Linked DNA regions of Homo sapiens: region 1 is linked to region 2. The links come from fine-mapping of genetic effects on gene expression. A gene starts in region 2. The other region holds a variant in brackets. All regions are shown on one strand. Distances are from middle to middle. Region 1 has its middle 170 kb from the start of BCHE. Region 2 holds the start of BCHE (butyrylcholinesterase).

Region 1 (5,394 bases), 170 kb after region 2:
GCTGCATACTAGGTACCAGGAAATGTGTAAATTTGCTGTAGCGATGAAACCACAACTGGTACAGCAGCTGCAATTGGAGTCGCCACTTGGTTAGGCTTATGATAATCCACTGTCATTTTCTAAGATCTATCTGTCTTCTGCACAGGGCAAATGGGAGAGTTGAATGGGGATGTGGTAGGAATCACCACCCTTGCGTCTTTCAAGTCCTTGATGGTGGCACTAATATCTGCAGTCTCTCCAGCAATGCAATATTGTTTTTGATTTACTATTTTTCTGGGCAGAGGCAGCTCTAATGGCTTCCATTTGGCCTTTCTCATCATAGTAGCCCTCACCTTACCAGTCAGGGAGCCAATATGGAGGTTCTGCCAGCTGCCAAGTATGTCTATGCCAACTATGCATTCTGACACTGGGGAAATGACCACAGGATGAGTCCAGGGACCCACTGGACACATTGTAAGTTGGATCTATGCTAAAACTCCAATAATTACCTGACCTACATAAGTTTCCGCTTTAACTGGAGGACCGCAGTGACATTTTGGGTCCCCTGGAATCAACGGCAGCTCAAACCCAGTGTCCAGCAGTCCTGAAATGGCTGATAATTTCCCTTTCCCCAATACAGAGTTACCTCAGTGAAAGGCCAAAGGTCTCCTTGGGGAAGGATGGGAGAAAGGTTCACGACATAAATTGTTGGTAATGTAGTGGGGTCCTTCCTCAAGGGGACCTGGCCTCCCCTTAATTCAGGGGGTTCTGGGTCTGTAAGCTAGCTCACATCTGGAAATTGATTGAGAGGCTTTGATTCTGTTTTCATAATTCAAATTAGTGTTTTGTCCATTCAACCTAGAAGTTTTCTGCTTATATAAATAAGTAGGAACACAGTAGGCTTCCTATCAATTTCACTTCTAGGAAAACTGTGATTAATTAGCCAATGCCAGAGCTCTACAGGAGTCAGGCTATTCTGATTGCCGCTTTGCCTCTGCTGTCTATTACGGTAGCTATGCTCACCATGTCTTTAAAGGTTGAGTGCCACCACTTGGCCCCTGCTACTTTGGGATCCAATTATTCCCATTGTATTTAAATTAATTGAGTGACTGTGGTTCCCACTGTTAGATCTGACATACAGAGAAGGGCAATTACAGGGCTCTTCAAAGATGCAGGTGCTGCCCTCACAAGTCATTTTGCAAGGTATTGGTCAAGGGTATATTTTCTGGATCCTACCAGCTGGGATGAGTAGGTCTAAAGTGATTAATCCACTCCACCATCCCAATCTCCCTAATTAATTTATATATGGGAGTTTATTAAGTATTAACTCATATGATCACAAGGTCCCACAATAGGCTATCTGCAGGCTGAGGAGCAAGAAAAGCCAGTCTGAGTTCTAAAACTGAAGAACTTGGAGACCAATGTTCAAGGTCAGGAAGCCATCCAACATGGGAGAAATATGTAGGCTGGGAGGCTAGGCCAGTCTCACTTTTTACATTTTTCTGCCTGCTTATATTCTAGCCATGCTGGCATCTGATTAGATTGTGCCCACCTAGATTAAGGTGGGTCTGCCTTTCCCGGCTCACTGACTCAAATGTTAATCTCTTTTGGCAACCCCTTCCCAGAAACACCCAAGATTAATAGGTTATATCATTCAATCCAACCAAGTTGACACTCAGTATTAACCATCACACTGGTTATTTACTCACCATTTTGTATTTTAAATGAACCTCTGTTTTGTGAGCGACTGTTGTTTATTTGTGTTCACTGATCTATGGCCTTCCATTGTGTAAATATTTCAAAATTTCTTTGTTGATTTGATAAATAATTGGCATATTTTTGATCTTTATCTTTTTTAAAACAAATAATGCTGTCCTTAGGCATTCTTGTACATCTGTTCTGTTAGGATATGTACAAGAACTTCTCTGAGATGTATGCTTAGGAACAAAATTAATGCATCGTATTTAAGCCTTCAACTTTACTATCCAATTCAATTTGGGATCCAAAGTCATTATCAGTGCTATCCTTGAGAAACCGTGCCTTTGATGTCCCTAGAAGGCTTTATTAATGAAGTAAGACTGGGTCTCTCATTCCTTCTCTCTCTCTCTCTCTGTCTATCTCTTAATATTTAGATATGTCCTCATCTACCTATTTGAAAAATTATAGGGATTTTTAAATATAAGATAGAAAAATAGAGGTTTAGGTATGGGTATACATTTTGGTATTATTTATATGTTAGTGTTAGGAGAATACATTTGTTAATTTAAATCAAGGCGTGAATGAGAACAAAAGGTAGATCTCAAAGATGCTATTACTTGGGTATAAAGATGTTTTATGTACTCTTAAGTTTCATTAAAGACCACTGCTTTATATGGCTTTATATCAAAGAGATGGTACCATAGTTGCTTGCCAGGTATCTATTTTACATCCATTCAAACACGCACAGACTGACAAATAAATATAGTTGATTAAATGGCAATTACTTATTTAAAAACAATAAAAACATCCTTGAGCAAATTTATAAAGAGTCTCTTCCTTCTGGCTGCTACATTTTAGTGGTAAGAATCACATCTAAAAAAATTAACATAGTTTTCAGTAAACTATGTACTTTGTTAGAAAACATAAGTTCTAATGGTAATAAATTGACATAACATGGTGAAGGGAATGGAGAGTGTAGGGGATGAAGTTTGGTTGGAATTTTAGAGAGTCATTGTCACCTTGAAAAGATAGCATTTGAGCAAAGGCTTGAAAAGGTGCAGCTTCTAGTTGCTCCAGCTAAAGGGATCAACAAGGAAGTGATTTGTCTGAGGATCTCCAAGGAGGCTTTATGGCTAGAGTAAAAGTAGGATGAGATACGGGACAGGCTTTGTCCTACAACACTCATTTTTTTTGTTTTAATATTTATTAATGTTTTCATGTTATTACCATCATTAATGCAGTGTGATTATTGTTATTTTTTGCTTTCTGCTCTAAGTCCTAGGTTTTTGTTGTCTTCTTTGCTCTAGTTACATAAAATGCATTTATTCAATTAAAAAATTCTAGAAATACAGAATCTGATCTTTCAGTGGTTATATTCAGCATTCTGTCTAGTGACATATATACTCATTTT[T/A]AAAAAAAATTGCTGAAACAAACTAGGTGGAAACATTTAAAGTTAGATGCTAGATTATAAACTTAAAAGTAGAAGTGCATCTATTTAAATGACTAGCCTCTCCCACTATTCACATTGAGAATCTAACAGAGTTGAGAGTTGGGGATGTGGAAGTACCTTTGGAGACTATTTTTCTCTAGGGCTTATGGATTGTGCTGTGAGTCTCAGAGGGGATGAGAACCAGAGAGAGGTGGCATTCTAATAGAACTTTAAATAAGAAAAATGATGCTCTGAAGAAACCATGTGGAGCTCTTCATTTGTGTTCCTCTGTACTTTAGCAGACATCTTAAAATATTGTCTGATTTACAACTGAGAAAGAGTGAGAGATGGTGGGGTAGTTTATCAAAGCAGAAAAAGGTGCCTTTTTGGCTGTTTTGTCTTTCTACAGTTTTTGGGCAAGGTATTGATAGCATTGTTTTTTTCTTTTTTTGGTCATGAGTCAACCCATGAAAGATATTCAAATATGTGTTACTTTAGATTTTGCGCAGGCTGAGGAACTAGATCTCAGCAGAGAGAAGTGGAAAGTATTCCTGGGAACTGAGAATAAATGACTATCCAGCAGGCATTTCCTCTCTACAGGACATTGCAGATGGGAGGTCTTCAGTACTGGAGAACTTTTCTCAGGACAACATGTTAGACTTAGCTATCTGCCAAGTTTGGGCTTGTCTGAGTGCATCATGGTAGTATTTCTGAAGTAAGATCTTTCTCAACTTCCTTTATCCTGTTGACCTAAAGAAATAAGCTGAGGATAAAATATAATTTTAAAGAGTTTACTTGAGCTAAAATGAGGAAAGCTGCCTGGGATATACTTCCTAGTTGCCTTGGTGAGTGCTCAATTGAGCCTTTGTTAGAAGCAAGTTTTTAAAGGCAAATGGGAATAAGGAGGTGGCTGATGCACAGTTATTCGACAGGAATTCTCATTGGCATACATAAATAAATAACATTGATTAGTAATTGACCATACATTGTTGAAATATAGGATATGAGTTATGGTGTTTGGTATATGGCATTGTAGGGCTACTGGATATCAATCACTCTAAAGCCAACATACCAAATGGCATCAAAGGGTAATTGTTTGGCCTAAGGGAGGAGAGAGATTTGACTGCTGTCACATTTCACTCTCTCTCTCTGGACCTGATAATTTAAAGGGGCTTGAATTCCTCAGATAAAAAGCTTATCTCCTTTCTCACTTTGTACCACTATTCCCTAACTCCAATTTCAAAGTGGCCAGAAACAGGTGTTACTTTTCTATGGAAGAGAAGAAATATTACGTAGAGGAAAGGAAGAGAAATCTGATCATAACTACACTTTCTTTTTCTTTTCTTTTTTAAAAAAAATATGTATACATATTTATTATACTTTAAGTTCTAGGGTACATGTGCACAACGTGCAGGTTTGTTACATATGTATACATGTGCCATGTTGGTGTGCTGCACCCATTAACTCGTCCTTTACATTAGGTATATCTCCTAATGCTATCCCTCCCCCCTCCCCCCACCCCACGACAGGCCTCAGTGTGTGATGTTCCCCTTCCTGTGTCCAAGTGTTCTCATTGTTCAATTCCCACCTATGAGTGAGAACATGCGATGTTTGGTTTTTTGTCCTTGTGATAGTTTGCTGAGAATGATGATTTCCAGCTTCATCCATGTCCCTAGAAAGGACATGAACTCATCCTTTTTTATGGCTGCATAGTATTCCATGGTGTATATGTGCCACATTTTCTTAATTCAGTCTATCGTTGTTGGACATTTGGGTTGGTTCCAAGTCTTTGCTATTGTGAATAGTGCCACAATAAACATATGTGTGCATGTGTCTTTATAGCAGCATGATTTATAATCCTTTGGGTGTATACCCAGTGGATATATACTGGGATGGCTGGGTCAAGTGGTATTTCTAGTTCTAGATCCCTGAGTAATCACCACAGTCTCTTCCACAATGGTTAAACTAGTTTACAGTCCCACCAACAGTGTATAAGTGTTCCTGTTTCTCCACATCCTCTCCAGCACCTGTTGTTTCCTGACTTTTTAATGATCGCCATTCTAACTGGTGTGAGATGGTATCTCATTGTGGTTTTGATTTGCATTTCTCTGATGGCCAGTGATGATGAGCATTTTTTTCATGTGTCTGTTGGCTGCATAAATGTCTTCTTTTGAGAAGTGTCTGTTCATATCCTTTGCCCACTTGTTGATGGAGTTGTTTGTTTTTTTCCTGTAAATTTGTTTGAGTTCTTTGTAGATTCTGGATATTCGCCCCTTGTCAGATGAGTA
Region 2 (5,394 bases):
AATATTGAGTCTATATCTCAAAATTTTTATTAATGATTAGGATATTCAACAAAACATTATCGTTTTTCTTTTTTTTAATTTTATTATTATTATACTTTAAGTTTTAGGGTACATGTGCACAACGTGCAGGTTTGATCGTTTTTCTTTTAATAAATTCTGGTGCAATTGGATACTGTCTCACATGATTCTGAGAGAACATAGTAGCATAAACATTATCATAAAAATGGGGCACATTTTCACAAATACAGCTGTGTATCTGAATTTAGATCAATTTGCTTATCAAAATAGTATTTAATATTGGAAATAAAGACAGGAGTTTTTGTTTGGAATTCAGACCATTCTAGTTTTTGAGGAATTGAGTTTTTGAGGAATTTGAGTTTTTGAGGAACTGAGTTTTTGTTTGGAATTAAGAAAATTTACTGGCAATTTTTGAAAATGCTAAACTGTTATAACAATAACTTTCAAATAAAAAAGGTGACAAATCTTTTTTTGTATTTTTAATTCAATTTTGAAAGTACTATTAATATTCCCTAGCTGATTTTAACAAAAAATACTAAATGTTATACTATAAGATGTGAGTGTGATAAAATAATTTGTATAAAGAGCTATTTTTTGGGATACTTGAATATCAACCAGATTTTCAAAATAAGGGACAAGCCAAGAATTTTTAAAAGATGTTCAAGCAAATATTCAAAATATTTTCCCTGTGTATAATTTCCCTATCTTTTAAAAAGTTACAATTAAATAAATATTTATTTCTACTTGGAAATAAACCCTCTTAAAATGGTAGAGAAAGAGCCATCTAGATAATATTAATATGATCTAGAACAAGCTCTCTTAAATGTATTTGAAGAAATTGGAACAACGACGTCTTTATATCAAACTTAAAAAGCTTGTTTTGTTGCAGACTAAGTGAAGTGGGGAATTGAGGAAGTCTGATTATAAATAGACTACATCACTGTCTTTCAGGGATTCTTCAGCTATGCTTTAGGCATGTATACATATAGAAGACACTACATTAGATATAAGAAACTTAAGATGTTTTATCTGTCCTCAATTAGGAAGAACATTTGCAAACTTCATTGTGTGAATAATTTGAACATTTATTAGAGAGATTTCTTGAGTCTTCTCTGAAAATTAAATCTCCTCTTAGGTTGCTATCTATTCAATTACAATTCTCTTAACATCTGGGACCGTCTAATTTTGGTAAGAATGAGCAGATGCTGGCAAGAAACCATCGAAATGAAGATAATATTCAATGTAAATATATATTATACTTATCAAGAAATGACTCGAAGAAGGAACCAAATTTATAGATAAGATGTGACTTGTTTAGCTATTAGTAGCTTATGTTTTATAAAAATGAAATATGGAATACATCCCAAACATATTTTTACAATTAAAAAACTAGGACAATACAAACAAACAACAACAACAAAAAATTAGGAGAACAAAACAGAACTTTGATAACCCAATTAGAAATTTATTTGGCATCCAAAAGACTACTTTATTTTATATCCAGAGAAAATTCTGAAGATTTTTATTCAAATGTTAAAGTCACACTTTAAAAGCTCACGCTTATCCTTAAACAAAGTAACTACTTATATAAGTAAACTGTCATTGTATTTATTGTAACTATGAGATAGTTTATATTAAGGAAGGCATTACACAGACTAGTGACAGGAGCTCCTAATTGAGTTTATTATCATGAAATATATTCATAAAAATGTAGAAGACATACTCATAAAATAAAAATATATAATAAATAGAAATCATAAACAATGAAATCACATTTCAGTTTACTTTTAGTCATTCATAGATTTTATAATCCTTAATATTTAATTCCCTGGTTAAAGTGGAACTGATGTTATCAAAATAATAGTTTTACAAGATTATAGGATGAGCAGAAAGTACATTTGCTTACTATTTCTATAATAGTAAAATAATAGCAAATGTAAAATATTTTGCTACAATTTAAACAAACATATAAAAAGTGAACACAAAGGGCAAAGGGGACACGCTCATAAATCACTGTAAATCAAATTAGAAAACAGGTTTTGTTTTTATTTACATAAAATAAACAGACCTCTCATTTGCCAGTTGTTACTGTTAAAGTTTTAGGTGACAAAATGTTGATTGAGAAAAGTATTTTGTTCAGGAAAAAGTAAGTTAACTACTAACTTTATCCCATTTAAAAAGAAAAAAAAAGGAAGACTAATCAAAGATTACTTTTACAGAGAGATTCAATAAACAATGCATTTAAGGGTAAGCCAGTATGAAATGTTTTTTCTTAGGAAACTCACTAAGAATATATATCACAGTGATTCCACACGTGCTATGGTCCTTTATACAGAGTTGAATAAATTCATTATTTTCTCAGCAGTTAAATAAACAAAGTCTGCGTTCCCTGAATAATAGGAAGATTTGATGCATGTGCCTGCTGGCTCACTTCCTCTGTCCCATTTGCAAGCTTCAGTAACTGTTCCCCACAGAGCACCAAAGGGACACAACAAACACATGAAGAGATCACTCTCATCCCACAGAATGAGCTTTACAGTAACTTGGATCTCTACACGAAGGTGTAAATTCAGAGCAACTTACCCGATTCTCTGCAACAAAGATGGCAAAGTTTGCAAGGAGTGAAAATCATGTAATACTTCGGGGAAATGCAGGATGCAGCTGCTGCTCCAGCCTGTAAATTGGACTGCACTGACATTCAGTGTTACTGAATGTAACAATCAACTGTTACTGACAAAGCTCGCGAGAGTTGGCAGCAGCAACTTGAAATCTGTTCAGAGGCTAATGGTATAAATGCAATAGTGATTCATTTACAGAAGTATTACAGGATTCATGCTTTACAATTGCAGGTAGTCTTCTAAGAATGAAGAAAAAAAGCATAGAAGATTCTTTAACTAAAATAATCTGAAATGTAACAGAAAATGCATGTTTCTTTTAACTCTAAACTTTAAAAAAATTTTCCTTTTTTTAAGAATATACATATTTCCTATGCTTGTCTTAAGATTTAAAGACGTATACATCATTCTAAAGTAGTGCTATTATTGAAATCCATTATAGCTTCAATCTGTGCTAATTATATAGTTAGAGAAGATAGTAATATAGAAAATAAGAAACACAATGCTCTAGATATAAGCTATGCAAATCAAAAACTTAGTTCTATTAACTGAATGGATGTCTCTGATATGTATCTCCTTTCAACCCCCACACTTCAACACTTATTTAAGTCATACAAATTTCAGCATTGGTAATTTCCTATTCAGAAGACCCTGCAGGCAGTCATACATGATGAGAAGCCACAATTTTCTGGTCAAGACAGGAAAAATAAAATGAATAACCTTCACCAAACTCTATAAAAGAGACACATTTGTCAACTTGCAGTGCACATGCTCTGGAGAATATATTTATGTCTTTGGCGCTTATCTTTCTTGAAATGATGTTCAGGAAAATAATTTTTTAAAAAACCTTTGATAAACTCCTTAATCCCTATCTTCTCAATGCAATATATTCTTAATCTTCTGTAAGTGATAGCTTTCACTTTTGAATCTCTTACTTGTGGGCTTTCTATGGACTAAACAGAAGGCATGTATTAATATTTGCAGGTGAGCACTTTTTTGCCTTTTAATAGAGTGTTAAATTTTCAAACAAGCAAATATAATTAGCATTTGTTGTAATTCTACCTTATGCCAGTCATTATAATTGACAATTTATATTAAATATTTTATATTATTTCAGCAAATATGAGAGTTAATATTATTAACCACCTCATCAGATGAGAAAGCTAAGGTTTCTACAAATCAGAAGCTTACTATATTTCTTACCACTAGTAGCTGTTGGAAAACAGAATTTTAATCTGTATTATTCTGTTATTTTATGTCAACTGCTTCCAAGAGAATAACCATTTTGGTCTTTTAAAATTATCTTTTCTGTGAAAATTGCTACTTAGGCAGTGTTAATTCAATGATAAATATCATGATCACAATAATTTATAATGTATTTAGAATATAGTTTATGTAATAACAAGTTAGTTACACAAAAGGTACAGAATACATAATCTATCTGAAAAGGAGAAAAAGGAGGTGGAGCACAGTGGTTCATGACTGTAATCCCAACATTTTAGGAGGCCTAAGTGGGCGGATTGCTTCAGTCTGGGAGTTCAAGACAAGTCTGGACAACATAGCAAAACTCAATTTCTGCAAGAAAATGGGTCAGACATGGTGGTGCAAGCCTACATTCCCAGTTACTTGGGAGGTAGCTGAGGTAAGAGTATCACCTGAGCCTAGGAGGTCGAGGCTGCAAGCCACGATTGTGCCACTGCACTTCATCGTGGGTGACAGAGTGAGATCCTGTCTCAAAAAAAAATTAATCAATAAATCAATAAAAGCAGGAAAAGGCTTTTTAAATGGAAGTATATTGACAAATTTGCAATGGTTTTTATAGTGATGGCATTTCTGTTTAAAATATAGTAAATCTGATGTTCCACATGAGAGTTCATGGGTTCAATATACATGATTTTTAAAAATCCAAATGTCAAAATTCTTCTCTCCAACCCAAGTCCACTGCATTGTTTCCTGTGCTAGCATAAGGTCAGCCTATCAAACGCGGCAATTATTAAGGAATATTTTGTGACGTTAGTGAATTCAGCAAAGCATTTTACATGCTTCCTGCATCTACTCACTGCTAGGTAAAATATGTCACATATATACACATATTTCATTTTCATCTTTAAACAGGAAGCCAAACAATAAAATAATTGGTTTCAAGCAGATCTTTATCTTTAACGCATGTTTAAACTGGCTAACTAGCAACATCAACTGATTACACAAGTTGGCAATTTTTCTTCTTCTCAATGTCTTTACTTCAAAGAACCACCTTCTGTTACTGTCCCTGTAGTTCTTTTCCTCGCATGATTTCACAGCTATGCCACATTAGTTCATTCATTATTTTAGTGCACCTCTAAAGCATTTATTCTTCCTGTCTTGAGAGTTTCTTCCTTGTGGCTCAACTTACAGCAGCTGCTTTGCTTCTGTGGTGTCATCATTTTCTCACACTCATCCAGCGGAAGGATGTAGGTCACACACAGTGAGCTTGTTTCAGGGTTAGTAGGGAAGCACTATTCCATTACATCACAGCATGGATGGTTAATGATCCTGCTGTTAAATGTTGAGTATGCCTTGTAAGCGACACTGATGAAATACCACAAGACACTTGACACGGCATTAACACTGCGCACATTTTGCAACCATATATGCTGAAGCTTGGGCAGGACAATCATTATGGTTTTGGCTCTATGATCACTTTCAGTTAGCCAGTCACAGTGGTTTTTTGCTTTTAAGGTCCCATTGTAACTCAGTTACCACTGTTTTCTAGATAGCAGCA

Evidence for each region. PIP is the estimated chance that this variant, and not a neighbour inherited with it, causes the effect.
Region 1: its variant is fine-mapped to the expression of BCHE in putamen (GTEx, PIP above 0.99). The same link has a PIP of 0.9 or more in nucleus accumbens and prefrontal cortex.

The regions. Positions count from the first base shown.
Region 1 is chr3:166,001,548-166,006,941 of GRCh38, forward strand. No RefSeq gene overlaps it. Among named protein-coding and RNA genes, the nearest start is that of BCHE, 170 kb to the left of the region's middle. The variant T/A (reference allele first, on the strand shown) is at 3,089.
Region 2 is chr3:165,834,713-165,840,106 of GRCh38, forward strand. It overlaps BCHE (butyrylcholinesterase), which reads right to left and starts at 2,711. Exons shown (of 4, transcript NM_000055.4): 1 at 2,602-2,711. RefSeq lists an enhancer at 2,529-2,823.